5 separate regions of the Homo sapiens genome follow, and regions 2, 3, 4 and 5 are each linked to region 1. The links come from fine-mapping of genetic effects on gene expression. A gene starts in region 1. Each other region holds a variant in brackets. All regions are shown on one strand. Distances are between the middles of the regions. Region 1 holds the start of VAV3 (vav guanine nucleotide exchange factor 3). Region 2 overlaps VAV3 (vav guanine nucleotide exchange factor 3). Region 3 overlaps VAV3 (vav guanine nucleotide exchange factor 3). Region 4 overlaps VAV3 (vav guanine nucleotide exchange factor 3). Region 5 overlaps VAV3 (vav guanine nucleotide exchange factor 3).

What was found.
Region 2: its variant is fine-mapped to the expression of VAV3 in whole blood (INTERVAL, PIP 0.95).
Region 3: its variant is fine-mapped to the expression of VAV3 in blood mononuclear cells (TOPMed, PIP 0.95).
Region 4: its variant is fine-mapped to the expression of VAV3 in whole blood (TOPMed, PIP above 0.99).
Region 5: its variant is fine-mapped to the expression of VAV3 in NK cells (Gilchrist 2021, PIP 0.95). The same link has a PIP of 0.9 or more in monocytes, monocytes after LPS, monocytes after interferon gamma and monocytes after triphosphate RNA.

What each region holds. Positions count from the first base shown.
Region 1 is chr1:107,962,995-107,969,742 of GRCh38, forward strand. It overlaps VAV3 (vav guanine nucleotide exchange factor 3), which reads right to left and starts at 2,186. Exons shown (of 27, transcript NM_006113.5): 1 at 1,672-2,186. The coding sequence starts at 1,875. VAV3-AS1 (VAV3 antisense RNA 1) reads left to right here and starts at 1,449. Exons shown (of 3, transcript NR_046653.1): 1 at 1,449-1,510. RefSeq lists enhancers at 1,197-1,326, 2,673-2,967, 2,903-2,972.
Region 2 is chr1:107,839,713-107,844,712 of GRCh38, forward strand. All of the region lies in intron 2 of VAV3 (vav guanine nucleotide exchange factor 3), which reads right to left. Among named protein-coding and RNA genes, the nearest start is that of MIR7852, 55 kb to the right of the region's middle. The variant C/A (reference allele first, on the strand shown) is at 2,518.
Region 3 is chr1:107,783,250-107,788,249 of GRCh38, forward strand. All of the region lies in intron 2 of VAV3 (vav guanine nucleotide exchange factor 3), which reads right to left. Among named protein-coding and RNA genes, the nearest start is that of MIR7852, 110 kb to the right of the region's middle. The variant A/G (reference allele first, on the strand shown) is at 3,044.
Region 4 is chr1:107,819,997-107,824,996 of GRCh38, forward strand. The region is part of intron 2 of VAV3 (vav guanine nucleotide exchange factor 3); the gene reads right to left. Among named protein-coding and RNA genes, the nearest start is that of MIR7852, 75 kb to the right of the region's middle. The variant T/C (reference allele first, on the strand shown) is at 1,980.
Region 5 is chr1:107,567,498-107,574,245 of GRCh38, forward strand. VAV3 (vav guanine nucleotide exchange factor 3) reads right to left here. Exons shown (of 27, transcript NM_006113.5): 26 at 6,550-6,701; 27 at 3,664-5,875. The coding sequence ends at 5,834. Among named protein-coding and RNA genes, the nearest start is that of MIR7852, 330 kb to the right of the region's middle. The variant G/A (reference allele first, on the strand shown) is at 3,746.

The DNA.
Region 1 (6,748 bases):
TTTGGTCATCAGAAAGATTAAATTACATCTAACATAAGAGGAGAAGAGTGAAACACATTCAAAACGATTCTCATCCATTGTTAGCATTCAAATAAAGGCTTCGAGGTTTAAAAAGGTCTTCAGCTGTCCAGAAAACGTGATTATTGAGAGCAACTGCTGAGAGTTCCAGGAAACAAGTTCCAGGAAATGTGCACAGTACTGTACTCCCTACTGGTGGGCCAAGGCATCCTGACCCACGCTGCCTCCTGAGGCTACAGGCAAAGTGGAAAATGGGGATGTGTGAGAGTAGCTAACTGCAGCTCCCACCATAATAGAAAAGTCTGCCAAACCCCTCAAAGGAATTTCCAGAGTTGAGACAACTCTGAAGGGGTACCGAGAGGTAGCAATCACCATGCATGTTTATGGGGGTATAAAATAATTTACCTCACTTTTAAATACGTATGGCTCTCCCCACTTCCATGCCTGTTCTTTCTTAGGGACTGCCCACCAGCAGGTTGAAGGCAAACAGGCAAGGAATGCAGAATCTGAAGTGCAGGGGACCCTGATGAAACACTGACACCAAGAATCACAGATGACTGTGTGTGCTCTAACTTTAAATACATACTTATTAAATCATATAAAGTCCGTTCCTTCTTAAAAGGCGCTGCTCTGGTTGCTAAGTAGCTGAGGCTCTGCGTCATAGAGGATTAGTGCTGAAATGTGTCAGGGAGAGGGCTCTGTCCTCTCCCTTTTAAGTTGAAAGCAGTTTGGTTTTTTGTTTTGTTTTAACATTCTGAAAGAGAAAGAGGCTCTGAACCGAGTTTAACATCCTTCTGTACAAAAATTTTCCGACAGGACAAATAAACTACTCTTCCACTGAACTGTGACTTTTGAGCTGACTCTAGGGTGCACCCAACCTTCCAGAGGTGTCTGGCTTAACCCTCAAAGAGGCAGCTCCAGCCCCAGGAGCCGACCGGCACCACAGCACCTGAGCAGGGCACTGCAGGAAGGAAAGCGGAATCTCTAGTGAAACTTCTCATTTCCTGTCGCTGCTGAGAGAGGCTGGACTCGCTCCTTCTCACATGGCTTAGGAAGAGCTGTAAACGGGAGCTTGCCGGCTGGCCACCAGCTCAGGGGCCCTGGGGGCGGCCTCCGGGTTCTGCTCCCTGTTCTTCCCTTTGACCAATGTCACTCCTGGACAGATAACGGGACCAAACGCCCTTCACTTCCTCGAGTCCTCATGTATGTCATGGTTCCTCTTTTAGGAAAACATGAGTACAAGACGCAAAGCAAAAGAAGAGACTAAAGGCAAATTACCCCATCACCTCGTTTCGTCCCTCCCCTTCGTTATTATAGAAGAGCTTGATCAAATTCCCTTTGTCGCGCCACACACACGCAGAGTAGGTGAAGGGCACCCTAAGACAACTTATTTCTTTCCCGCCTCACAGAAAGCCTTTACGAAATCCTCACACCATCTCCGGACGCAAAGCTTTCGCATTCAGCTTGAGGAGCTAAACCATTTCAAGCCAAGGTAGGAAACGCCAAAGTGGTGCCGAAGTGGTCCCAAAGCAGAAGGCTGGGAAGCAGGGCAAGCTCAGCGCACCTAGACGTTTGCATTTACACAAAGAAATTAGCCGCATGATTAATGGGAGCTGCCGGCTGGAGGCGGGGCGCCCGTGCCGGCCTCCTCACCTGGGACATCTGCGGCCTCAGGTTGATCTCCTTCAGGTTGATGGAGTGCGCCCGGAGGTTGTTAAGCAGCTGGCAGAGCAGGACTCCATCGCGGAGGGTCTGCGCAAGGTCGAACACCTGAGCCGAGTCCCAGGTCACCCGGTGGTTGGTGGGCAGCACCTTGCAATGGATGAGCCACTGCGCGCACTGCTTCCACGGCTCCATGCCCGACGGCTCCGGGACGCGGCTGGGCCGGGGCGGGCGGCAAGGATGCGGCCGCCGCCGCCGCCGCCGCGGTTCCTCCGCGCCCCGCCGACGCCAACAGCCGCCGGCCCTTTCCCCGCGCGGGATCGAGGGAGCAGGAGCCGCGGCTGACGGGTCGCGGGCGCCGCGCTAGGCTCGGCTCCGGTCCCGGCCCGGGTGCGCCGCGACCCGGCCGCCGCTGCAGCGAGTCCCGCGCGCTCTCCGTGCGCCCCGGCCGGCTCGGCGGCGGCTGCCGCGCACAGGCTTCCGACTCCAGCGCCCGGCCCGCCACTGAGCATGCCCAGCACGCCGGCCGGTCTCGCTGCGGTCCGCAAGTCCCCAGACGCGCGGGTGGGAGCGCGCCGGCGGCCGGGGCTGGGGTCTGTGGCCGAGGGCGGGGCGCGGGGGAGGGGCCGGCGGAGGGGGGCGGCGGCCAGAAAGGGGATCCCGCGCCCCCGCCTGCAGCCTTGCGGGGCTCACGCAGCCCCCGGCGTCCTGGGGTCTTCTCTCGGGGCGGCTTCCCGGCTTTGCGGGGAGTGTGGCTGAATACTGTAATACGATGGGGTCCCCCAGGACCCCCTAAACAACAAATGCTCAAAGGAGCGACGGATTAATTGGGGCACCCAGACTCCCCAGAGCAATGAAAAAAGTGCCTAGAGCATCAGTAGAGCACGGCGCTGAAAGTTTTAGAGATCGTCGCCCCCTCGCCCCTTGCAGCTCTATCCCCTCCATTCTCTATAGCTGATTCCTCAGCCTATTCCTCCTAGTTGCCCCTAGTGGTGTTTTGGCACCCTCAAAGTGAGTGAGAGTGCGTGTGTGGAGACGCCTGCGGAAACCGCCCCGATCCCTGAGCCTATTTCCTCGCGAGGTGATTTTCACTTGGAGCTGGTTTGCCCCTGCACTGTCAGGCTCGGAACTGTTTGCCGTTGCTGTTCTGGCCCTTTTGCTGACCCCACAAAAACCTGCTTGAGAAAGGCCTGTGCCACGGTGCTAGACTGCGCATGCGTCGGCGACTGGCGGCCGGGTTTGAGAGCAAAGCGCGTTAGCCCTGGGCAGCTCCTGCCGGGCTGTTCTGGGATCCTTAGTGAAAGTTGGAACTTGACCCCAGAACTTTTGCGCAGTGCACAAGCAGTGCATTCGTGTTTCTTAAGTAAATCTTTTGGAGACTCTAAACCCTACCCCTTTTACTCCCACTGCACACTGCCCCTCAAAACCACAATTAATGTTTAAATTATTTGTGGCAAGATATTGCCACAGTGAATTATTGCTGTTCGATAGGAATGTGGTCCTTCGTCACCCTTTTGAGATGCATTCACTTAAAATTAGAAAATAGGCCGGGCGCGGTGGCTCACGCCTGTAATCCCAGCACTTTGGGAGGCCGAGGCGGGCGGATCACGAGGTCAGGAGATCGAGACCATCCTGGCTAACACGGTGAAAACCCGTCTCTACTAAAAATACAAAAAATTGGCCGGGCGTGGTGGCACGCACCTGTAGTCCCAGCTGCTCGGGAGGCTGAGGTAGGAGAATCGCTTGAACCCATGAGGCGGAGGTTGCGGTGAGCTGAGATCCAGCCACTGCACTCCAGCCTGGACGACAGAGCCAGACTCTGTCTCAAAAAACAAACAAACAAACAAACAAAAAGATGGGAGTTTGGATAATTTAATTGTATTATATTTCTGTAGCCCAAATTTTTTATTACGAACCATGCTTTATAAGCAGGCCAAAATATTATTTTTAAAAGAATGATCTGTTCAGGATAGTGATTGCGTCCTTTTTCGTTTGGCTGTGACAAGGATAGCACACTGTTTACACTCAGCGCTGAACAATAAATCAGCCTGAGGATTTCCTTTCCTCACACGCATCCTTCCCTAGCAATTTCCTCTTGTGTTCAATGCGGATTCCATCAATAGCACGACATTTTCTAGGCCATAATTTTGGCAAATAAATCATACTAATCTCTACATACCTTTAGAAGCAAAATCCAACACATTTGAATCACCATTTAACACAGTCTTTCATAAAGAGAAATTAAAAAGAAATTTCATTAAACGGGTCAAAATTTAAACTAAAACTATGAATTTTTTTCAGGTAGCATCAGATCACCTTTGGATGTTGGAGAATATTTCCAAAATCCACATTATATACACTATCCCAGGACGCAAATCTGGATTTAGAGCCCGAGCTGTACTGCTTTCTAGCAACATGACCTTGGATAAATTCTCTACAGTTCAGTTTCCATAGATACGAAATAAGAAATTTTTTTTTTTTTTTGTGGGGGGTGGACGGAGTCTCGCTCTGTCGCTCAGGCTGGAGTGCAGTGGCGCGATCTCAGCTCACTGCAAGCTCCACTTCCCGGGTTCACGCCATTCTCCTACCTCAGCCTCCCAAGTAGCTAGGACTACAGGCGCCGGCCGCCACGCCCGGCTAATTTTTTTTGTATTTTTAGTACAGACAGGGTTTCACCGTGTTAGCCAGAATGGTCTAGATCTTCTGACCTCGTGATCCGCCCGCCTCGGCCTCCCAAAATGCTAGGATTACAGGCGTTAGCCGCCGTGCCTGGCCATAAGAAGTAATTTCTAACTAATAGGGTTGTTGTCAGGATCAAATGGTACAATGTCTTGCTATTCAAAATGCAGCCTGTGGACAGCAGCATCACCCTTGAACTTGTCAGCACTGTAGACGTTTGGCCTCTACTCTCATACTGAATGAACCAGAACCTGAATTTTAAGATCTCCATATCCCATGTATTTCCATCAAAAGCCAAGAAGCACTGATACAATGCATAGAATGTGTGGTGCCTGATAATTAGAGCTCAATAAATATTACCCAATAGTAGCCACTTTTCATTAACAAGTGGCAACAACGACCAAATATTCTATTTCACTTCTCTGTATATAATATATGACTTCAAAACATAATGCTTCTCAAATATAGTAAACCACAGAGTTGATAGAAAGGCAACAGGAAAATATATGGAAGGCCTAGAAGGGAAGGAGTTTAGTGGAGACACGGGATTCTTCACGTAAACAAGGAGCTAAGTGCCAATAGGTGACTCGTGAAAGACATTTAAGTGTCAGAAATTGGTGCAATAAAAATGCAATGGGCTTCTCACCTGAGTTATCCTTACTAAAGGAAAAAATTACAGTCTTTTCCCTTTACAATTTTTTTTTTTTTTTTTTTGAGACAGAGTCTCACTCTGTCAGCCAGGCTGGAGTGCAGCAGATCTCGACTCACTTCAACATCCGCCTCCCGGGTTCAAGCTATTCTCCGGCCTCAGCCTCCTGAGTAGCTGGGACTACAGGCACAAACCACCACACCTGGTTAATTTTTGTGGGGCTTTTTGGGAACCAGCCCTTGTCCCAACAAACCACTGACCTCGGCCTCCAGGCCTGCCCTGGCTGGTCATCAGAGCAGTAAGTGAGAGCAGGAGGCAGAGGCTGGGGAGGACAAGGGAGAGGGAGTGGGGTCCAGTGCAGGGAACAGGGCCCTGTCACCCAGGCTGGAGTGCAGTGGCACGATCTCCGCTCACTGCAACCTCCACCTGCTGGGTTCAAGCGATTCTCCTGCCTCAGCCTCCCGAGTAGCTGGGACTACAGGCATGCACCATCACACCCGGCTAATTTTTGTATTTTTAGTAGAGATGGGGGTTTCACCATGTTGGCCAGGCTGGTCTCGAACTCCTGAACTCAAGTGATCCGCCCACCTTGGTCTCTGAAAGTGCAGGGATTACAGGTGTGAGCTATCGCACTGACCTCCCTTTGCAACCTTAAAGGAAATGTTCCACCTAGTGAAGGCAAGTTGGGAAATAGGGACCAACTCATCAGTGGCAACTCCTTGCTAATCCTGGTACCTAGTGTTCTTGCGGTGTGCAAGAAGTTCTTTCTTGCATATCTGACGTGTGACTTCAGGACCCCTCCTATGGTCCTACTGCCCTTGAGTCCTTCATAGCCCCTGTAGTACATCCACACTCTACCATTTGCTGAATGCCCACTATGTGTCAAGCACTCTTCTGGGCACTTTACATGCACTGTCTGCAAGTGAGAAGATGCTCTCCCACCCATTTTAATGAAGAAGCTAGAGATCAACAGAGTTAAGCATCTTGCTCTTTATTAGGGAACTCAATAAAAGGATGAGCTTGTGTCTCCACATCTGCGCCCCTTCTGTTCAGAGCTGTGGCTCAGCATTAAAATAATTGCTGTATCAAGCTTAATTACTGGTTTAAACATCGTTCTCCCTGCTAGACTGAAACACCTTGAAGGCAAGGGTGGTAACTCATTCATCTTCAAATTCCCAGAACCAACCTTGGTGCCTGTCACATGACAAACAATAAATATTAGTTTGGTGAGTAAATAAATGAACAAGCTATGTTAACCCTCTTGCTCTCCCTCCATCCCTCTCTGCCTTTCTATCCTGTCTTTCTGGTGGTGAAAAGATCAGGAAGGATTTGCCAGCATTACTTGTAACAGGCATAAGAGTCACATGAAAAAAGATCTGCTTTTTTCTTTTTTTTTTTTTTTTTTTTTTTTTGAGCCAGAGTCTTACTCTTGTCACCTAGGCTGGAGTGCAATGGTGCGATCTTGGCTCACTGCAACCTCCGCCTCCCGGGTTCAAGCGATTCTCCTGCCTCGGCCTCCCGAATAGCTGGGATTACAGGCGCCCACCATCATACCTGGCTAATTTTTGTACTTTTAGTAGAGACAGGGTTTCTCTATGTTGGCCAGGCTGGTCTCAAACTCCTGACCTCAGGTGATCCGCCCACAAGAGTCTACCAAAATGCTGGGATGACAGGCGTGAGCCACCGCGCCTGGCCTGCTTTTTTTGTGTGTGTCTCGCTAGTCTTTCCGTGCCCTCCAAG
Region 2 (5,000 bases), 120 kb before region 1:
TAGGAGGAACCAATAAAACCAAAAGATGGTTCTTTGAAAAGATCAATAAAACTGATAAACTTCCAGCTAAGCAAACCAAGAAAAAAGAAAGATGACACAAATTGCTAATATCAGAAATAAAGGAGAGATCATTACTACTAATTCCATGGACACTGAAACGATAACAAGGGAATACAATGAACAACACTATGCCCACAAATTTGATAACTTAGGTGAAACAGGCCAATTCCTTGAAAGACACAAACTCACACAGGAGAAATAGATAATACCAACAGACCTGTATCAGCTAAAGAAGTCGAATTAATAATTAATAACCTTCCAAAAGAAAACATCAAGCCCAGATGGTTTCACTAGTGAATTCTACCAAACGTTCAAGGAAAATATAATCCACAATTTCTTCCAGAAAATAGAAAGAATACTTCCTAAAGTTCTCTATAGAAACTTGTAAATGTTTTGCTGTTAGCCTGTAAATGTTGTAATGTTGTAAATGTAATGTTGTAAATGTTGTAAATGTTACAGTGTTAGCAGTGTAAATCACTGCTTTAAATTCAATACATAAAAAGTTGGTGCTTCAATATGCTAGAAAGCATTTAGGTCACTTTTTACTTGCTACAAAACAACATGTATATTTTAAAGTTGTGCAAAGACCTTTCTTGATTGGCACCACTTAAAGACAAGGTAGTAAAGGAATAGGTTATCAAAGGATGTTCATTAATAAAGTGCCTTATTCTAGACAGTCCCTGCACTTTAACAGATATAAACATTTCCCTCTCAGCCACAAATGCTCCATTCCAGAGCATTTAACCATTGGCACACATGCCAAGGGTCTTGCTTTGATGACATTTCATTGTCTATTCATATTTCACAGCCTTTCTATGATCAATCCATCAGGAAGTGCTCAAAGTTAACGTTCTTAACGTGCCCTAAAGAAACGTAAAGGAAGCAACAAAAGTTAAGTCAGGGGTTCTGGTCAAGGCAGGAAAGGAAAAAAAGTGACTAGGAACAAAAAGTAGTTGATACAAAGGAAAAGAAGAGGAGAAAGCACTGAAAGCATTTTAAAAATAAAAGGCAAACTGTCTAGTTGGCAACAGACCAAGATATAAGTACAGCATATTTCAGAGACTCCTAAAAGCAAGTGTGAAGAACTATAAACCACTGGAAGGAAGTGAAAACTCTGAGCAAGGGATCAACATGTTCAGAGATGCTTTTAAAAAAAAAAAAAATTCATCTGGCAATCAAATAGCTTATACGGGAAGGCTGGAGGCAGTGAGACCACAATGAGACTACTGCCATGGTCTTAGCTAGAAGAACTGAGGTTTAAGCTGACTGACAGCAGTGTGGTAGGGCAGAGTTGGCCAGTACCAAAGGGAGACCACTCAGGGGAATGATGATGGGAGTTCCATTATATACACCAATAGTGAATGCCATATGGTCTTAAATTCATTCATTCATACACTCAGAAAATACTAAGCATCTTCTATGTGCAGTACTGTTCTAGGATATGGTAACATAGCAGTGAATACAGCACAAAGTTCTTGTCCTCAACAAAGTTCATATTCTGGTGTATTTAGGGGAAAGGGGGGGGTAGAAAAAGAAACAATTTTAAAAGTATAAATGGTATATCAGCTGTAATAAGAAATATGGGGAAAAAAACTAAAGCAATATAAAGGGCACAGAAATTGTCAGAAGGCTGAGGAGAAACAGTAGCGGTTGCTATTTTGTTTCAAATGTTCAGAAAAGGCATCTATAACAAGGATATTTAAACAGAGATCTAAAGGAGGTGAGAAAACAATCTTTCTCCACTCCATCACTGCTTGTGGGTGCCATAGATCAAGCTATAAACATGCCCCAATTTAAAATAGGTATCATTAACATACAAAAACACAAAGTAAAAGCATTAGATAGGGCACACTTTAACTGCGATGGGAAGTAGAAATAAAACACATTTTAGGATTCAAGTATTATTTTTCATTTATTATGCTAAAATGACTAAATGACTGTTCCTCTCTCTAGGTCTGAGCTGTCCATCACTTTAGACACTTGAAATGAGGCTAGTCTAAATTGCTATGTGCTGTAAGTGTAAATACAAACTGGGTTTGGAAGAATAAGGAAAAAAAACAGAAAATATCTCATTATACTTTGTGTATTGATTACATGTTTAAATGATAATTGGGGTGCGTTGGGTTAAATAAAATGTATTATTAAAATTAATTTTTCACTTTTTAAATGTAGCAACTAGAAAATTTAAAATTACATGGCTTGCATTTATGGCTCTCATATTTCTATTAGACAGCATTATTCTAGTTTCACTACCTAGTAATAAATTTTTCTATACTACCATTGCTCATGCCCCAAATTACTCAAAAACAAAAATCAATTTAATAAGAATATTAAAGAGAATACTGAAAAACAATTTCTAGCAAATGTTTACCTTCATACTTATATTGTCTACCTAGTACCTCCCTCTTCTGAGTGTGGAACCCCTCTTCTTTAAGACATTGCTTTAAACATTTAGTT[C/A]CCAAATTCTAAAATGAGTCCACTACCTTGGACATAGCTGAATGGCAAGGGAAGGGAGTTGCGAGATGAATAGCTAAAAATAAAAAGCACTCTGCACTGTTGGCCACAGTTGAGTGGCCCAGGAGTGAACAGCTGACTCAAGGTGAGGCAACTGCAGTCCTTCCCACTGATTTTTAGTACCTCTGAATCATTTTGTTTCAGGTGTGTCTCTTATAAACAGTGTATAGTTGGGCCTTTGTGAGCCAAACTGGAAATTGTTTCGGTACTTCCACCCATCTGGTGAACTTCTGTGGCAGTAGTTTCACTTTAATCTTTGGCATCTCTTTTCTCTCCCATGCAGCTTTTTAAACTGTTCTTGTTCACAGCAAAGGTTTGAGGCAAGGTATGAGAGATAGCTCAATGAGATTTCATTCTTCTTTTTTTTAAAACTTAGTTAATTTGAAGTTTGGGTGTCCTTGGTTTTCTGGTTATGCAGGGGGTGTCATTTTTACGCATTTTAATTTTTCTTCTTGTTCTCTATCATATGTAGGATATTTTGGGAGGGGGCACAGACTTAGGCAGATATCGTTATCTGTCTAGAAATTTCTCCCGATTTTTATAACCATAGCTAAGAAACAGTCTCTCCAATGAGAGAAATATTAACATAATATGGAAATTAATGATGGTTAATTTCATTAATATGGAAATATTAACATCAAGTGTTCATATTCCTATCATGAGGAACTTTATCTATGATGAGAGCAGAAGCAGACCTACTGAGAAAAAAGTAGAGAAAAAAGACAGACAGAGAGAATGCTATTTGAATTCCTGGTTCCACTTGTTCCTGAAGTCCACCTTTACTCCGCCCTTCCCAATAGTTTGGCTGTTCCAATTTATCGTGAAACCTATGAGTCAAATTCTCCACATTATGCTCAACCTAAGGCATAATGCTCCTGGGTGGGCATTATAACTGACAGCTCTGGAATCAGGCTACTTGGATTTAAATCCTGACTCTTAAACACACATCCTGAGTAAGTTTCCTATAAACCTTTGGTGCTTCAGTTTTTGTATATATAAAATAAGGATGATAAGAGTACCTACTAATAAAATTGTCATTAGAATTTGACTAGATATGTGAAGCCCTTAGCACAACACAAATATATATATATATATATATATATAGTTAATAAACATTAGTTATTATCAGTTCTAGTGGTAGCTCAAATTGGATTTCTATCACAACTCTAAATGTTCACTAATCATCTATAGACTTTTGTCTTAGAATTACACTGTTGAGATTAAAAATGTATGTGTGCGTGTGTGTGTGTGTATATATATATATTTATATATATATATATGAGGAAGGTGGTTCAATTCACTAGCCATCTGCTGAAGTATGAGCAGGCGTATTTAAACCTCCACATTACCGAGGAATATTCAGAAGGGGCTGGAACATAGAAAGCCAAACTTCATCCCACACTGTCTGCACCAAGTTTTTTCACCCTCTCCCCCCATGGGGTTATTCCAGACTGATAAAATCAGACACGGAAAAATGCATTTTTGGGGGAGTCTTTTGCCTGTTCAGTTGTGACAGATAATCCTAGGATAAAACGTACCCCTACAGAGCGGGGAGCTTTCCACTGTGGGGGTTCAAAGAAGATGATTCTTCCTGGAAAAGGGAGAAGAGAATGAACTTCATGACAAAGAAACAAAACTGGAAACTGAGAAGTATTCATGATGAAACTATCTTATATAAGACATAACTTTAACTAACCTATAAGAGACTTTAACTTTTAAAGTTTTCTTCCTGGATTCTGGGCAAGATGGCTGAATAGGAACAGTTCCAGTCTGCAGCAACCAGTGAAACCAATGCAGAAGGCGGGTGATTTCTGCATTTCTAACTGAGGTACCCAGCTCATTTCATTGGGGCTGCTTAGACAGTGGGTACAGCCCACCGAGGGCAAGCAGAAGCAGGGTGGGGCATTCCTCACCCAGGAAGTGCAAGAGGTCAGGGAACTCCCTCCCCTAGCCAAGGGAAGCCTTGAGGGACTGTGCCACGAGGGACGGTGCTATCCGGCCCAGATACTATGTTTTTCCCACTATCTTCGCAACCCAAAGAACAGGAGATTCCATCTGGTGCCTACACCACCAGGGCCCTGGGTTTCAAGCACAAAACTGGGTGGCCATTTGGGCAGACACTGAGTTAGCTGCAGAAGTTTTTTTTCCGTACCCCAGTGGTTCCTGGAACACCAGCGAGACGGAAACATTCACTCTCCTGGAAAGGGGGCTGAAGCCAGGAAGCCGAGTGGTCTTGCTCATCAGATCCCCTGCCCATGGAGCCCCATAAGCTAAGATCCACTGGCTTGAAATTCTCCTTGCCAGCACAGCAGTCTGAAGTCGACCTGGGATGCTCCAGCTTGGTGGGGGAGGGAGGCTTGAGTAGGCAGTTTTCCCCTCACAGTATAAACAAAGCCTCCAGGAAGTTCGGACTGGGTGGAGCCCAC
Region 3 (5,000 bases), 180 kb before region 1:
GGTCAAAACTGCCTTTTTAAAGCAAAGTGAAGGGCAGACTGGGGTAGAGGACATAGGGAACAGAGAAGGGGCCAGGAGACCAACTGAGGGGGCTGTCTCAACCACCCAAGTGAGAGGTGAGGCACTGGAACCAAGATGGCTGCAGTAGACAGGAAAGTAGTGGAAATGGGAGGAGTGTTCAGGAATAGTAGCTGATGCTCTGTGAGGGCTAAGGGAAGAAGAACCCAGGATGACCTGGGCTAGCTGTTAAGGCTCTGGAGGTGGACAGCCCCAAGGCCGCCTACCAGAAAAGCCTCCAGGATGCTTCCAAGCAAGAAGCCCTTGTTCTCTCTGTGTCTTCTACATGGTGGACATGTACCATCCTGAACCCAGTGAGGCCACCCACTCCTCCACGGAGCCTTCTCTGGCCCATGGTCTGTGTCCCCTTTGTGTCCCCATAGGACCCCGGACATAACTCCACCGTAGCATCTATCACCTCATTTAAAATGAAAATTTATTGGCTTTTAAAAATATTTCAGGCCAGGCCTGGTGGCTCACGCCTGTAATCCCAGCACTTTGGGAGGCTGAGGCGGGCAGATCACGAGATCAGGAGATCGAGACCATCCTGGCCAACACAGTGAAACCCTATCTCTACTAAAAATACAAAAAAAAAAAAAAAAAATTAGCCAGGCATGGTGGCGGGCACCTGTAGTCCCAGCTACTTGGGAGGCTGAGGCAGGAGAATGGTGTGAACCTGGGAGGTGGGGCTTGCAGTGAGCTGAGATAGTGCCACTGCACTCCAGCCTGGGTGACAGAGCAAGACCCTATCTCAAATATATATATATATATATTTCAAAAGAATACATGTTTACTTTGTCAGGCTGAAATAATACAGTAATACATAAAAGATGCCCTTCACACCTCTCCTCTCTCTTCTGCCTAAATGGGACCATAGCTAAAAATCTGGTATGACTCTGGCAGAGTTTTTCTTTTTTCCTTTGCTTTATTAAGTAATGTATTCCTATTATACAGATTTTTCTACAGCATGCTTTTGTCATTAACAATAAAGCAGAGTCATGTCATATGTATACATCTACTTTATTCATTTTAGTGCTGTGTAACATTTCAGTGTATATAAACAGCAATGATTTAGCCATTCTCTTGTCAATGAGCTTTTTCAACATTTTTCTGCAAAATCTGCAATTATTTTTCTCGCCAAAGATCTTTTCAATTATGTGCAGATTTTGCTATAGGAAAGATTTTTAAATGGGATGACTAGGACAAAAGGCATGATATTCAATATATTTGCATAAATATTGCTTCAATATGAAAAATATCTGCATAAATTTAGACACCCCTGAAGAGTATATAAAAACATAAGCCGTGCCAGTGATCTGTTCATTGGTCTTTCAATCTGACAACGGAAAATTTCTTAAGGGCAGTAGAATCAAAGTGATTCTTCACTGTTGTATTTCCATCACCTAGTTCACAGACAGGCTCACAGCAACCACTTAACACAAAAATATTTCTGGCTTAAACAAATAAAAGAGTAATACCTTGCTAAATTGTTTTAAAGATTAGGGATAATAGGTGTCCAGATATGTAAAGGGCTCAACCTGGCACAAGTGGAGAATGAATAGTTGAAGAATCCATTGTGAAAATTAAACATTAAATATGAGACAGTGTTGTCTATTTACTCAAACCTAGAGCCAACAAACATACTGACATGTTCCCCTATGAAACATTTTCAACCAATGATGATTTTTATTTTGTTTTAGCTCTTTATTTTTTTCATCCCTTAGTTAATTTAAAAACCACAAAATAAAACAGCTTTTGAAAACAGACTGGTGATATTGTACACTGATAAAACTACCCATTTTAAACTATTCTCTTCATGAGACATTCGGGCAAATGTCCACTCTTTGCTTCTCTAGCACATTAGTGCTGTTGATGTTATTTGTAATTAAAACAAGTCATCTAAGCAGGAGCAGTATGTTATGGCTACCTTTAAGGTCCTGAGTTAAGAAAGGCACAGCCACAGTAACCAGAGGAAGCCATGAGACCAACATGTAGGTCTGCCAAAAAGTTGCTAATTAATTATGGATTTATCTTCTTGAGTTCTCTATTCTGAAATCTCACCACTTAACCCATACCAGACCCAAAAGGAAAGGCCGGGTTCAGTAACAACAACCTGGGTTCAAAAGGAATTCCGAGGGAAAGGGTACTTACAGGGAGGTGGGCTCTGCAAGGGCAATCAGGCAGCTGCATGCTAGAGCCCCAAATGCAAGACGAGCTTGGGGGTTCAAGAAGGGGTCCACGGCATCACACCCCTACAACATTAGGTTGCTATCTAGCAGCAGAGGCTCAAGGCACAGATGTTGCATCCTGGTTTCTGAAGGATCAGAGCAAGTGCCCTGTGGGGTTGTGGAGAAAAACTTGGGCCCCAGAAGAGGGAACTGGGAGTGTGGGCATGAGTGCTGGGTGGAGAAATTCAGACAGAAGCATAGTCTGTAGACCAGGTCAACTGCAAGCTAGAGGCACCCCAGAGACCTGATACTATCCAGGCATCCCAGACACCAGGTTATCTGACAATTAGGTCTAATTCTAAACCAGACCAGATGGTAAATTTCAGACTAACAACATGTTTCACCTTAACTCTCCCAGGAAATCAACAGAACTCATTATCATAATTTTCTTCGAAACTCTAATTTCACACAGTAAATTACCCCCATTAGGATACACTACAGCTTAGTGTCACTTCCAGCAACACATCTTAGGGATTTCCTGAAGCACCTGCTTGTTGCTTTGATCTGTGGGATGCTGTTGAAAAATGTCCTTAGCACCTCCTCTATGGGCAAAGCAAAGCAGTACAGCCAGATAAGATCAACAAAACATTTCTATGTCAGGAAGACTGTAAACTATGGGAAATACATTTCCATTGTTCAAGAGAGTAGAGTATCTATATAGGTTAAATGGATCCAAATTATAGTTTGTGCTGTCCTTGGTAACAATCATAAATTTAAGAAGTATTCTATACTTACTATTTTTTGAATCTTCAAAAGTG[A/G]AACTACAGAGAACAAGAACTTCCTTTAAAAAAAAAGCCATATACTGGGCTGATTAGAAGTGCAGGCTCAGAAGTCAGATTTTCTGGGTTCAAAGACCAGCTCCATCTCTTACTAGCAAGGTAAGGACGGGAGTCAAGATGATCAAGGCTCTGTGCCTTAGTTCCCTTACCTACGAAATTACAATTAAAACATCACTTATCAAACAAGTTTACTTTCAGCGTTAAAGAGGTGACAGACAGACAGATATATGCACATAGAAGAATGTCCTATACTTCTGCTGCTATTTCTAACGTCATCATCACCTTTGTTGTCATTGTCATCATCCTCATCATCATCGGTAAAGTCAGATTTGGTCTTTGTAAAGTACTTCAGAAAACAAAATGTGAGTGTGACCTCACATAGAACTGAAAGAGTTCTAAGAAAGGATAGTACACAGGATGGGCTCAGAGAAGCCACACCTCTCTACTCCAAATAAACACAAAAATCTGTGTAACTAGGGTGTGTTTGTTCATAGCAATTTCCAGACAAGTCCTTTAGCTGAATGCCTATACCCAGGCCCCACAACTCTATCTTACAAATTCTAGAGATATCATGTTTTATTCAGTGGTTATTATTTTGTTATAGATCCCTTTGAGAGTATGATGAAAGCTATCACTCATTTACTCAAAAAATTAAACCCACCTATCTACACACACACATACACACATACACACACAAAAACACATATAAAGTCTGCATCTAATATCAAGAAATCCAGGGACCTCTGAAGGACCATTTATGGACTTTCCAGATTCTCACTAAATCTCTTCCTTTGCCTATCAGAATACCATGGCCCAGAAAAACTGGCTTGCTCCAGGTTAAACAACTAATAGTAGCAGGGTTAGTACCAGGTCCCTTTTCTTCTGTCCTGGTTATTGCTCTTTCCACTTCACTACCCTTTCTATAAGTTTCTTGTATTTACTGAACACTTCATTCTGTGCTAGATACACCAGACACACACTCCAAAAGCTTCAGGGAGCAAAATGAGGATACAATGCTTCCTGCTCTCAAAAAACCAACAGTCTATTAGGAAAGACCATAACAATGAAGGGTACTGAGGGAAAACACAGACTAGTATGACAAGCAACATCTGAAGCCCAGGGGAGACAGCAAGGCCAGTTGCACCCCTTCGTGGGCAGAGGGAGCTAGAGGGGTTCAAAGGCATCTTTAAAAGAGGTGATCCTAGTCTGCATCTTGATGGGCACCTGGACATTTGCCAGACTCTCTTTCTTCAGGTTGATACAGGTTTGATGGGCAAGAATGACCAGTCTCTGGCCCACCCCTCTCATCATCACATCGTACTCCAGTGAGAATACTTGTGTATTCTAAGTAGATTCACTTGCACCTTATTCTCTGAGAAGCTTTTTGTGGTTGCCATTTTCTGAATGATATATTTCTTATTTGATTAAAAGTGGATATTTTTCAGATTCTGAGAGAAAGAAGGTCATTGAGCAAATTTTTTCTAAAGCAAACAGGACTGCACTTGCCTCATTAGGCATTTCCGCACCACTATGGTCCTGCCGTCTCTGCCTTCTTGACCTCAACACTCTGCCTCTGAAGACCCCAAACAGAGCATCTTTTCCTCCTAGCCTGCTTTTCCTCCCCATTCCCAATGACCCCACAATCCCACTCCTCTCCTTCACCTGGCCAGACATTGGGGAAACTTTCTGGAAGTAAGTGCCAGGTCTAAATCCTATCAGTCAATTCATCCTTTTCAGACTCTCTCAGATCCAATCCCTTCTCTCCTCCCATGCCTCTGCTATGTCTCGGCCCTCTCTATTTCTTGCCTCAATTATTGGAATAGCTTCCAATATGTCTCCAGGCCTACAATTTCACTCCCTTCAATTTCATCCTCTACTTGGCTACCATAGAGGTTGTATGACATTTCAAAACTATTAATGTGATCATACCACCATT
Region 4 (5,000 bases), 140 kb before region 1:
ACACTGTTGGTGGGAATGTAAATTAGTATAGCCAATATGGAGAATAGTAAGAGGATTCCTCAAAAAACTAAAAATATAACTACCATATGATCCAGCAATCCCACTGCTAGGTATATACCCCAAAGAAAGGAAATCAGTATATCAAAGAGATATCTGCACTCCCCTGTTTATCACAGTACTGTTCACAGTATCTATGATTTGGAAGCAACCTAAATGTCCATCAGCAGATGAATGAATAAAGAAAAATGTGCTACATATACACAATAGAGTACTATTCGTCCATAAAAAAATGATGAATTCCTGTCATTTGCAGCAACATGGATAGAACTGGAGGACATTATGCTAAGTGAAATGAGCCAGGCACAGAAAGACAAACTTCACATGTTCTCACTCATCTGTGGGAGCTAAAAATTAAAACTATTTAACTCATGGAGATGGAGAGTAGAAGAATGGTTACTGAGGCTAGGAAGGGGAGTGGGGGGGTAGGGTGTAGGGATGGATAATAGTTACAAAAATAGAGTTAGATAGAATGAATAAGATCTAGTATTTGATAACACAACAGAGTGATTACAGTTACTAAAAATTCATCGTACATTTAAAAAATAACTAAAAGTATAATTGGAATATTTATAACACAAAGAAATGATAAATATTTGAGTCGACAGATGCCCCATTTACCCTGATGTAATTATTAAGCCTTATAGGTCTGTATCAAAATATCTCATGTACCCCATAAACATATGTACCAACTATGTACTCATAAAAATTAAAAATTAGGAAAAAACTGACCTTCATTTCTCTGATCACCCATTTTTAAAAGTCTTTCCAATCCATATACTTAGAAGAAAAAATAGGAGCTTACCACTTTTTTAATGTATAATAAGGGGCAAGTTTCTTTAATACCTATATAACCAAGAGAAAAGAATGCAAACTGCCTAATGACCTAGATGACTGAAGGTATAAAAAGGCAGCTGACAGTATAAATCCACTGTCTTATGTGAGTCATATATTGAGAGGTACCTCTGACTCATGAAGCTGTCTCTGGAAAAATACAATATAAAAAAGCAAGCTCCTCACTTTAGATTTACTATAGAAGAAGATATTATAGAAACATTACTAATCTTGTTATTCAAGTTTCTTAAATAATCATTGTTGTTATCATATCCTTAGAAGACAAAATCCTGAAGACAAACTATTTTCAGACACCTAAGGAAAAACATAAATGTTATAGCATGTGTATTCACTGATTTGGCAAATAAGTGTTGATTGTTCAGAACTATGATAGACATTAAAATACAAAAAAGAGTAAGAATGTCCTTCCTCATGAAGCCAAAAATGGGAAAGACAGTAAACAAAGATATAAAACAATTATAGACAATAGTTCTGTGAAGAAATTCTTCTTGGTGCTGGGCCAATGAAGGAGGGAAAACCCAACTCAGATAGAAGAAGCCTCTCTAAAAACGTGTCATTTACACTGTGACATAAAACCTTCAAAGAGAAGGGGCCAGTCATGTGAAGATCGTGAACAATCCAGGAAGAGCACCAGCAAAGTAAATGACTCAGAGGTGGGAGAAAGTGTGTGGCGTGTTCTAGGAGCTGGTAGACAGCTGACACGTCCACAGTAAAATGGAAGACAGAGGAGGTTGGAGGGGCCAGGACATGCATGGAAAAGCCAAAGACAAGCTTCCAGCTGGGGAGTGCACAGTGTGAGATGAACTGTTAGAGGATACTTTGGCTGCTCTATGGAAATAGATTGCAGGAAGGCAAGAGCAGGAAAGGGAGACCTGATTAGTTAGTAATGTAACCGAAATGCAGGTTTCCTCACTCTCCGCTTGCAGAGTCCAATTAACAAGAGCAAGGTCTCGTATAAAGAAAGTGATTTATTCCAAAGCTATCTTAGGGGAAGAAGTACAGGTGGCCTGCCTTTAAGTGTACTGCTTTGCTTTTGGAGCAGAAAGTGGGCACTTTTAAAGAGAAAT[T/C]GCATGCAGGGGAGGAAGCCGGGGATTGGGGTCCTTATGCCAGCTTCAGTGCCTTATCTACTGACTGGTTGAGCTGGTGACTGCTGGTGCCTTTGTGGGCAGGACTAGGGCAAAAACTCACCAGGTGGGAGAGAGCAGCAGGCATACTTTTTGACTGTTATCTCTTGAGGCAAAACTCCTGGTGGGTGAGAGTTCCACAGTGGGCATGCTTTGGTTTGTAAATTGTTAACTCTGGAAGAGAGATCAATCTTGGAGCCCATGGTTAGAAGAACTTGCCCTGTAGGGAATGTATGGTGAAGGGAAGGCAAAGGGTTATATTTGCATTTCCAAAGGGATAAGTGGGAAGTAAGGAACTGGAGGAATGAGAAAAAAGAGGGGAAAAAAAAATAATTAAATGGGCTGGGCGCGGTGGCTCATGCCTGTAATCTCAGCACTTTGGGAGGCCAAGGCAGGCGGATCACGAGGTCAGGAGATCGAGACCATCCTGGCTAACATGGTGAAATCCCGTCTCTATTAAAAATACAAAAAAAACAGCCGGGCAAGGTGGCGGGTGCCTGTAGTCCCAGCTACTTGGGAGGCTGAGGCAGGAGAATGGCATGAACCTGGGAGGTAGAGCTTGCAGTAAGCCGAGATCGTGCCACTGCACTCCAGCCTGGGAGACAGCGAGACTCCATCTCAAAAAAAATAAATAAATAAATAAATAAATAAATAAATAATAAAAAAATAATTAAATGATCTCTTCGAAAAAATGGGGGTACTTGGTTACTGTAATAGTCCAGGCAAAAGATGATGTTGGCATGAACTAAAATAGTAGCAAAAGAGGTTCATTCCTTCTATAATAATTATGTCTTGAACACCTACTACATACCAGGCACTTTTCTAGGTAATATGGACATGTGAAGAGTGAAGTTAACAAGACCCTTCCTTGTTCTGTTAATATTACATTCTCAAAGGAAGAGACAAAAGACAAGTAAGCAAATAAACAGGCCATAAAATTTTGGATGAGAGAATACTAGGAAGACAATAAAACAAGTTGATATAATAGGGAAGACTGTGGGAATGGATATTCAGAGTTGCTACTTAGGCTGAAGAGACAAGAAAAGTAATATTTTACCCACTATCCAATCGATGAGAAAGCGCTTCAAAGTCCAAAGGAGAAGGAGGAAGATGGAAAAATTCAAGATGACTCTTGAAGACAGAATCAGAAAAACTTGCTTACAACAGTGATGACAGACATGAGGGAATCAAGAATAGTGTCCAGGTTTATGATTTTAGAAACTGCAGATAATGATTCTTCCATTTTCTAAAATGAAGGATGGGGAAGAAGCACATATATGAATTTTGAAATTAAGTGTTCCATTTTAGACTTACTAAATTTGAGTTCAGATGAGATGTGCATTGACTGTGAGTCTGAAACTTAGGGAAGAGACCTACTGTGCAGATTAAAATCTGGGAGAACCTGTAGAGAAATGATAAGTGAAGCAATGGGAATGGCTGAGACTCCCCACGTGGGCTGGGTAGCATTAAAAAAAAATAATAAAGATTAGAATAGAGCCTGTGGAACTCCAAATTTTAGAGATCAAGCAGTGGAAGAAAAGCTGAGCAAAGAGACAGAAGAATGGCCAGTGAGGTGGTAGGAAAGTCACGAGACTGTCTGTTAATGGACCAAATGTTTGTATCTCCACAAAACTCCTATGTTGAAGCCCTAAACCCCAGTACCATTGTATTTGGAGATGGGCTTTCTAAGAAAGTAATGAAGGTTAAATGAGGTCATAAGGGTGAGGCCCTGATCTGACAGGATTAGTGTCCTTATAAGAAGAGAAGCCAGAGAGCTTGCTTGCTCCCTGTTAATGCCCATCCATTGAGGAAAGGTCATGAGAAGACATAGTGAGGAGGTGGCTATCTGCAAGCCAGGAAGACAGCTCTCCAAGAAACCAATTTGCAAACACCTTGATCATGGACTTCTAGCCTCCAGAGCTGTGAGAAAATAAATTCTTGTTGTTTAAGTCACTCTAACTGTGGTATTTTGTTACGGCAGTCCAAACAGACTCAACCAGTGTCATTGCAAAGCAGCAGAGGAAGAAGGTTTCAAGAAGCAGGGAGACGTGAACTGAGTAGAAAACTGGCAAACAGCTGATTAAGATGAGGGTAGAGAAGTGTCCCAGTATACAGAATATAAATTTCATGAGTGATGTTGATAAAAGTAATTGTAATGTGGTGATGGGAACAAATGCCAGATTGGAATAGACTGAAAAACAAAAGAGATGGGATAAAGTGAAGATGCACATAGCGTCGCTATTTCAAGAAATTTTTCTGAGAAAGGGAAATGAGAATAAGGTGATAACTAACGGGGGAATATGGAAGCAAGGAACTTCTTTGTTTGTTTGTTTGTTTTACAGTGAAGGAAACTATTAACACATGTGTATATTGATGAGGATGGCCCCATACGGAGGTTCAAATGGATAATGACATGTACATTTTCAGAACCAATGTACAAGGTATTCTGCTCAGTACTGAAAAGGATCCACAGATAAATACGGCCAGCCTTCTGAGGAAGTAAGCAGAACCCCAAACAAATAAAACAACCTACAGGTGTTCCTTAATTAAAAATACTGGAACATATACACTATCTATATCTGTACTTCCAGCAAGAGGACATTTTATGTATGCAGCATTTTCAGTTAAATAAAACATTTAACTGAATGTTAAATTCAGTTAAAATATTTCAATATATTAATTGTAAAAGGTAGTATGGCTCAACTATAAACATATATAATGTATTCCTTATAATCACTAGTAATAACTAAGTGGTTAGTCACAATGATTTACTAGGCCCCATGCAGAATCTTATTAAGAATTAGAAATAATATAAAAATATAAAAAGCAATATTAACCAAAAGAAATAGAAGAACAGGAACACTATTTTAAGAGTAAAAGAACCCACAGATGCTGAAGAAGGTAAGAAATCTAGGGTCCCATTATTCGAAATGAGGTGATCCCATATGTCTCTAAACTAAAAGT
Region 5 (6,748 bases), 400 kb before region 1:
TGGAAGACAAAATACTTGTTACAAAGCTGTGTTCCCATGTTAACTAGCAAATAAAGGGAGCAACGGTGAGTACAATTGGCAGTGGTGAGGACGGTGATGAACTGATACAAGGTCTAACAGTCACGTAATGTTAATATGTCAAAGAGAAGTGATAAAGATACCAACGGAGTTGGCTCCTCAAATAATGGATTCAGGGCTGTATAACCCACTGTATCGTAATGAAAATAAGAGGAATTTTGTGTTTGTAGCAAGGTTGTGATGGTGAAGTCAAGCAGAAGCTACCACCATGGCCTTTCCTGGTCCTTAGAAGGAATGAAGTGATTCCACCCTCTCCCTAAGACAGACTCCATCACTGTGGATTATCAGCTGGCCTGCTCCACCAAGGGAAACTTGACTCCAAGCCTCTCTGGATTAGCAGCCATTTTCTAGTGCAAGAGTGAATCAAAGTAGAAACGAAAATTCAATCTGATACTAATCTCTCTAGGCAATATCTTTTTTGGGTTTTCTTTTAGGTGGCAGGAATAGTGGCATATTTCTGAATTCTGTGTTAACCTTTCATTGTTCAAACCACTGTTTAGTATCGTATAGTTTCTTCTCGGTTATGTAAGTTTAAAAATGTACGAAATCTCTCTCTTGCCCTACAAAGTGTGGCAGGATAGGGTAGTGGTTATACGGACTCTGGAGCCAGACCACCCAAGTCAGAATTCAGCTCTGACACTTAGCAGCTGTGTGACTTTGGGAAAGTTGCAACCTCTTGATGTACCTCAGTTTCCTCATGTGCAAATGAAAATATTATGGGGTTCTACCTTTGGGGGTTGTTGTAAGTTGGTGCAAATAAAGCACTTAGAACAGAGCATGGCACATGGTAAGCATGCCAATACATGTTATTGGCAACTATTGAGTTTACCTTGTAGTTCACTGTTCATAACTTAGGCAGCAATCCTGAGCTAAACTTAAACAAAATTAGGGCTTAATCCCCATGTTAATTATGGGGCTGGTGTATGTGTGTTATGGGACTGTGGGGCCTGTCAAGATAGTCCTTCTAAGGTAAAGGGTAAGTTGCTGCATTTGGCCCCTCCTACAACCAAGAAAGAGGCACAATGCCTAGTGGGCCTATTTGGCTTTTGGAGGCAACACATTCCTCATTTGGGTATATTAGTCCTGCCCAATTATCAAGTGACCTGAAAGGCTGCCAGTTTTGAGTGGGGTCCAGAACAGAAGGCTCTGCAACAGGTCCAGGCTGCTGTACGAGCTGCTCTGCCACTTGGGCCATATGACCCAGCAGATCCAATCGTGCTTGAGGTGTCAGTGGCAGATAGGGATGCTGTTTGGAGCCTTCGGCAGACCCCCATAGGTGAATCACAGTGGAGGCCTCCAGGATTTTGGAGCAAGACCCTGCCATCTTCTGCAGATAACTACTCTCCTTTTGAGAGACAGCTCTTGGATTGCTACTGGGCTTTGGTGGAAACTGAACATTTGACTATGGGTCATCAAGTCACCATGCCACCTGAATTGCCTATCATGAACTGGGTGCTTTCTGACCCATCTAGCCATAAAGTGGGTCATGCACAGCAGCATTCCATCATCAAATGAAAGTGGTATATACGTGATCGGGCTCGAGCAGGTCTTGAAGGCCAAGTAAGTTACATGAGGAAGTGGCTCAAACGCCCATGGTCTCTACTCCTGCCACCCTGCTTTCTCTTCCCTAGCCTGCACCAATGGCCGCATAAGGAGTTCTCTATGATGAATTGACAGAGGAGAGAAGACTAGGGCCTGGTTCACAGATGGTTCTTCATGATATGCAGGCATCACCCAAAGTGGACAGCTGCAGCACTACAGCCCCTTTCCAAGACATCCCTGAAGGACAGTGCTGAAGGGAAATATTTCCAGTGGGCAGAACTTCAATCAGTGCACCTGGTTGTGTGATTATATACTGATACGTGGGCTGTAGCCAATGGTTTGGCTGGGTGGTCAGGGACCTGGAAGAAGCATGATTGGAAAATTGGTGACAAAGAAATCTGGGGAAGAGGTATGTGGATGGGCCTGAGTGGCCAAAAACTGTGAAGATATTTGTATCCCATGTGAGTGCTCACCAATGGGTGACCTCAGCAGAGGAGGATTTTAATAATCAACTGGCTAGTATGACCCATTCTGTGGACACCACTCAGCCTCCTTCTCCAGTCACTCCTGTCATCGCTCAATGGGCCCATCAACAAAGTGGCCATGGTGGCAGGGTTGGAGGTTACACATGGGCTCAGCAACATGGACTTCCACTCACCAAGGCTGACCTGGCTACAGCCAGTGTTGAGTGCCCAATTTGCCAGCAGCAGAGACCAACACTGAGCCCTCGATATGGCACCATTCCTTGGGGTGATCAGGCAGCTAGCTACCTGGTGGCAGGTTGATTATATTGGACCTCTTCCATCATGGAAAAGGCAGAAGTTTGTCCTCACTGGAATAGACAATTACTCCAGATATGGGTTTGCCTATTTTGTATGCAATGCTTCTGCCAAGACTACCATCCGTGGACTCACAGAATGCCTTATCCACAATCATGCTATTCCACACAGCATTGCCTCTGTCCAAGGCACTCACTTTATGGCTAAAGAAGTGTAGCAGTGGGCTCATGCTCATGGAATTCACCATCATCCTGAAGCAGCTGAATTGATAGAAAGGTGGAATGGCCTTTTGAAGTCACAATTACAATGCCAACTAGGTGACAATACTTTGCAGGGATGGGACAAAATTCTTTAGAAGGCCGTGTATGCTCTGAATCAGTGTCCAATGTATGGTACTGTTTCTCCCATGGCCAGGATTCAAGGGTCCAGGAATCAGGGGGTGGAAGTGGAAGTGGCACCACTCACCATCACCCTAAGTGATCCACTAGCAAAATTTTTGCTTCCTGTTCCCGCGACATTCTGTTGTGCTGGCCTAGAGGTCTTAGTTCCAGAGGGAGGAATGCTGTGGATATGGGTACAGCCGGGCGCGAGATTTACACCCTCTCCCCCGCACTTTCAAGGGCCCTCCAGAGCTCACCAGATGCCGCTGGAAGCGCGACGCTTTCCAAGGCGCGGACCCCTCTCTCCAGGCGAACCCAATTCCAGGGCGCCCTGCCCTTCACAAGGAGAAAAGAACTCTCCCCGGGGCTTCCATTGGCTTCTCTGGGATCCTTCGCATTACTGTGCTGGACGCTTGGCAGTGTCCATCTCCGCCACTCCGGATTCGGGATCTGAACCGGACTCCCTTTCGATTGGCTGAGGGCAACAGAGGCCATCGCCTGTCCATTCAGAATGGCGCTCACCTATTTCTCAGGACCGAATGACCCATGTCCAACTGCTGTTCACATGGAACCCTTCTCCACTTCGGCCTTTGAAGTTCTCTTTAGAATATGTGCTACTACCACCAACATCTGCACCTGCGGCGGCTCTGCCCGGGCCCAGCCCTGGGCTTCAAGACTCACCGCAGCGGCCCTCCTACTAGACGCATAGCGTCCACGGGGCTGGCGGGCGGGGGGGTGGTGACCTCCACACATACACTGCTTCTGTTCACTCTGGACTGCTGGCGATGGCCTGGTACAGGCCCAACAATCCAGTGCCATCCATTTTCAGGGGAACCCTGACTAATACAGGGATCATTCAATAAAAAGACTCCAACTCTTAGAAATCAATTTAGTCACTATTTATTATATTGACATATTTACAAAATAATACAAAGTGAAATACCACTCTAATTCACCGTATTACAC[G/A]AGGGCTGCATACAGGCAAGACAAAGTATATGGAAAACATTTACTTCTGTCTTTGGTATTAGAACTCTACACAAATCTGCAGCATTTAAATTTTCCAAAACAAAGTATTAAACGTGGACAAAGATGTAATTGGTAATGTCACAAAAAGGGGCTCCAATATCCTCTGCTAGGAAACCCCCAGGCCCATGAAATGCAACAGGAAGACTAAACACCATTTATAAGGAGAGGGTCTATTGACTAAAATAAACAATACATGCTACAATACCATCCACAGGAGTGTTTCTGCTTGTGTGAGGCTGCTCCCTCCATAACAAAGTTCGGCTGACGGCAACAGACAAAACATTCCCGAGACAGAGTCGCAGATAAGACTTTACAGGAAAGAATCCATTCCAAGAGTACACTTTGAGGTGTAACTTTATTGTACAGAACATTTTATAAAATACATTTTTGTGATCATTTACACATATACAAAGACTTAAATGGTTTTAGCAAATAATAATTTTTCTAAAACACAATCACAGTTTACATAATTCTGAGGTAAAGGTCTTGAATCTATCCTAGATGAAAAGTCCTAGCCCATGAGGGTCTCTAACAGGGGGATGTGTCCACTGAACCTTGAGTTCTGGCACCCAGACGGATTGATGAGAGGGCAGGCTACACCTGCTTCATTTCAGAGATGATTCAAAATTTCAGAACTTAATGCTCCTGGTTCAGTTCTACTAAGTTAATGCTTCTTTTTTTTCCCAACATGTAACTCTCTCAGTCTTGTCAGAACACAACTTCTGCTATGGAGGAAATATTTCCATCAGGAAAGGGCCAAGTTAGTGTCTTAACTTGACTGCCTTGAATGGGGACTCTGGACCCCAGGAAGAATGTATTTAGGCTCCTCACAAAAAAGAGTGATGGCTGGGCAAAACAAATGTACTGCAAGACCCATCTTCCCTCCAGTTAATACACTCCCAGGATGGGCTGCAGAGGGGGAGACTCTGAGAGAAGCTGGAGGCCCACAAAAGTCCACTGACCCTCTTTCTGTCCCAGAAATGAATAAAGGACCCAGTTGTGCTTTCCTTCCAAAATCCTCAACAAAGTTGTTTGTGCTCCAAGAAAATGTGGGAATAAAAAAATCATGTCCCAGGTCATCTTTGTGTGTGTGCGGGGGAGGTGGATGGGAGGAAAAGGCATGTATTAATAGATACTGCTGCTATAAAATGACATAAATTATAGCCCTTGATCTGTTTCTGTAAACAATGCCAGCTTCTTCAGGTTATTGGCAACTACCCTTAATATACCTAGCCCAGATCCTTTCATAAAGTCAAGTGCTATATTTCCAAAATAATCCTATGAAATCATGAAGGTTGTGAAGGTTTAATATGAAGACACCCTCTCTTTTGTGTGCTTTTTTCACCTTTTATAAAGAAGTTTGCAAATATAATCAGGACACCAAATAAGTAATTAAAACCCTTCAGGGATAGCTCACTTATGATGCAAACCTGAGCACTGGCCTCATATTTTATAATATCATGAGTAACATCTGAGGGTAAAAGTGTTTGCCGGGCAATGAGTCACCTTGTTGGACAATTTAAGACAAGTAAGGCTGGATCTTTCCAGTAAGCTGCTCAAATGGCAGAACTCCAATTTTTCGTCATGCTGGGAAAAGGAAAATTACACTTCTGCTTCTTTGTACCATCAAATAATCTGGTGAATGGCATGTGAGAATAAAGCAAAAGTGTATTAAGATTTACTGATGACTGGCATTCATGGTATCTGACCAGAAGAAGTAAAGGGAAGCACGAACCAATGTGTTTGCAGGGCTCTTCTGGGAAGAACAGCTCTTGGTTTTGCCCTGGTCCCTGACAATGACAGACTGGCAGGCTGTTTCTTGCACAGCTCTAGGCAAGCCATTAATCTGTCAGTACCAGCATCTTTAGAAATCTCAGCATTAAGACTTAGGAGGGGCTAAGGAGGGAGGATGTTGAACAGCCAGAAATGCAGCTTTTTAAACACTTCAGTTAATTCACGATGCTGTGCAGGCTTCTATTTATCCCTTCTCTGAAATTTTTGGTGCAGGGTGCAACACGGGATTTGAATTTATTCATCCTCTTCCACATATGTGGATGGAAACCAGCCCACCTAAAAAAGAAAAGCAACCAACACAGCAACATGACTTTGTATCTGACACTTCAAAGGATTCTACAAACAGAGTATTTTGTTTTCATAACACCCCAATTAAACTGGGGTTTTATGTCCATTGTAGGTGAGAAGATTGGTTTAACTGCTCTTAGAAGCCTAATAGAGTAAATGATCGAAATGGAGGAATAAAATAAACAGTGTTCTAATCCACTAGCACACAAATAAATATGTAAATTAAGTATAATACAGGGGGGCTCTGCTGCATAATGATTCCTATTTCTGCTGTAGAACAGGATGAAAAGACAGAGGTACTATGTCCCATTCTTTCCAATTTACATCAGCAGTTCTTATAGATATTTTGCAATACACATAAAGTTTAGCTCTATGGCTCAGGGTCTAAAAAGAACTGAAATGCTCCTCGACTCTTTTCCAAGCAGCAAGCTGTCCCACTTGCCCAGGTGAATTTTATTTATGTCACTATCATATTCATTTCAAATATTTTCAGCGAGTCCCTGGTATCAGCAAAACACAGCACCAGTTTCCAGAGGGCAGAGGCCTGTGGGCTGAAAGCTGTAATACAGTATAGAGGCTTCTCCCTGGTGCCACAATGGGTGCAAACAACTGCTCAGTCCCCTTCTTTCACATGCACCAGCACATCGAGAGGGCCAACTTACCCTGCCATTTACTTCTCCTCTCCACCAGCCATTTGCACTCATCTTTGTGTAAATCTTCACCACATCTCCTTTCAACAAGGACAACTCTCTCATATCTCTTGCACAGAAGTCATACCGAGCGATGGCAATGCCCAGCACTTTTGGACTTAACACTGTCAAGAAATGACAAGCAATGACAGTAGGTTTGCAGTTCGTTAAC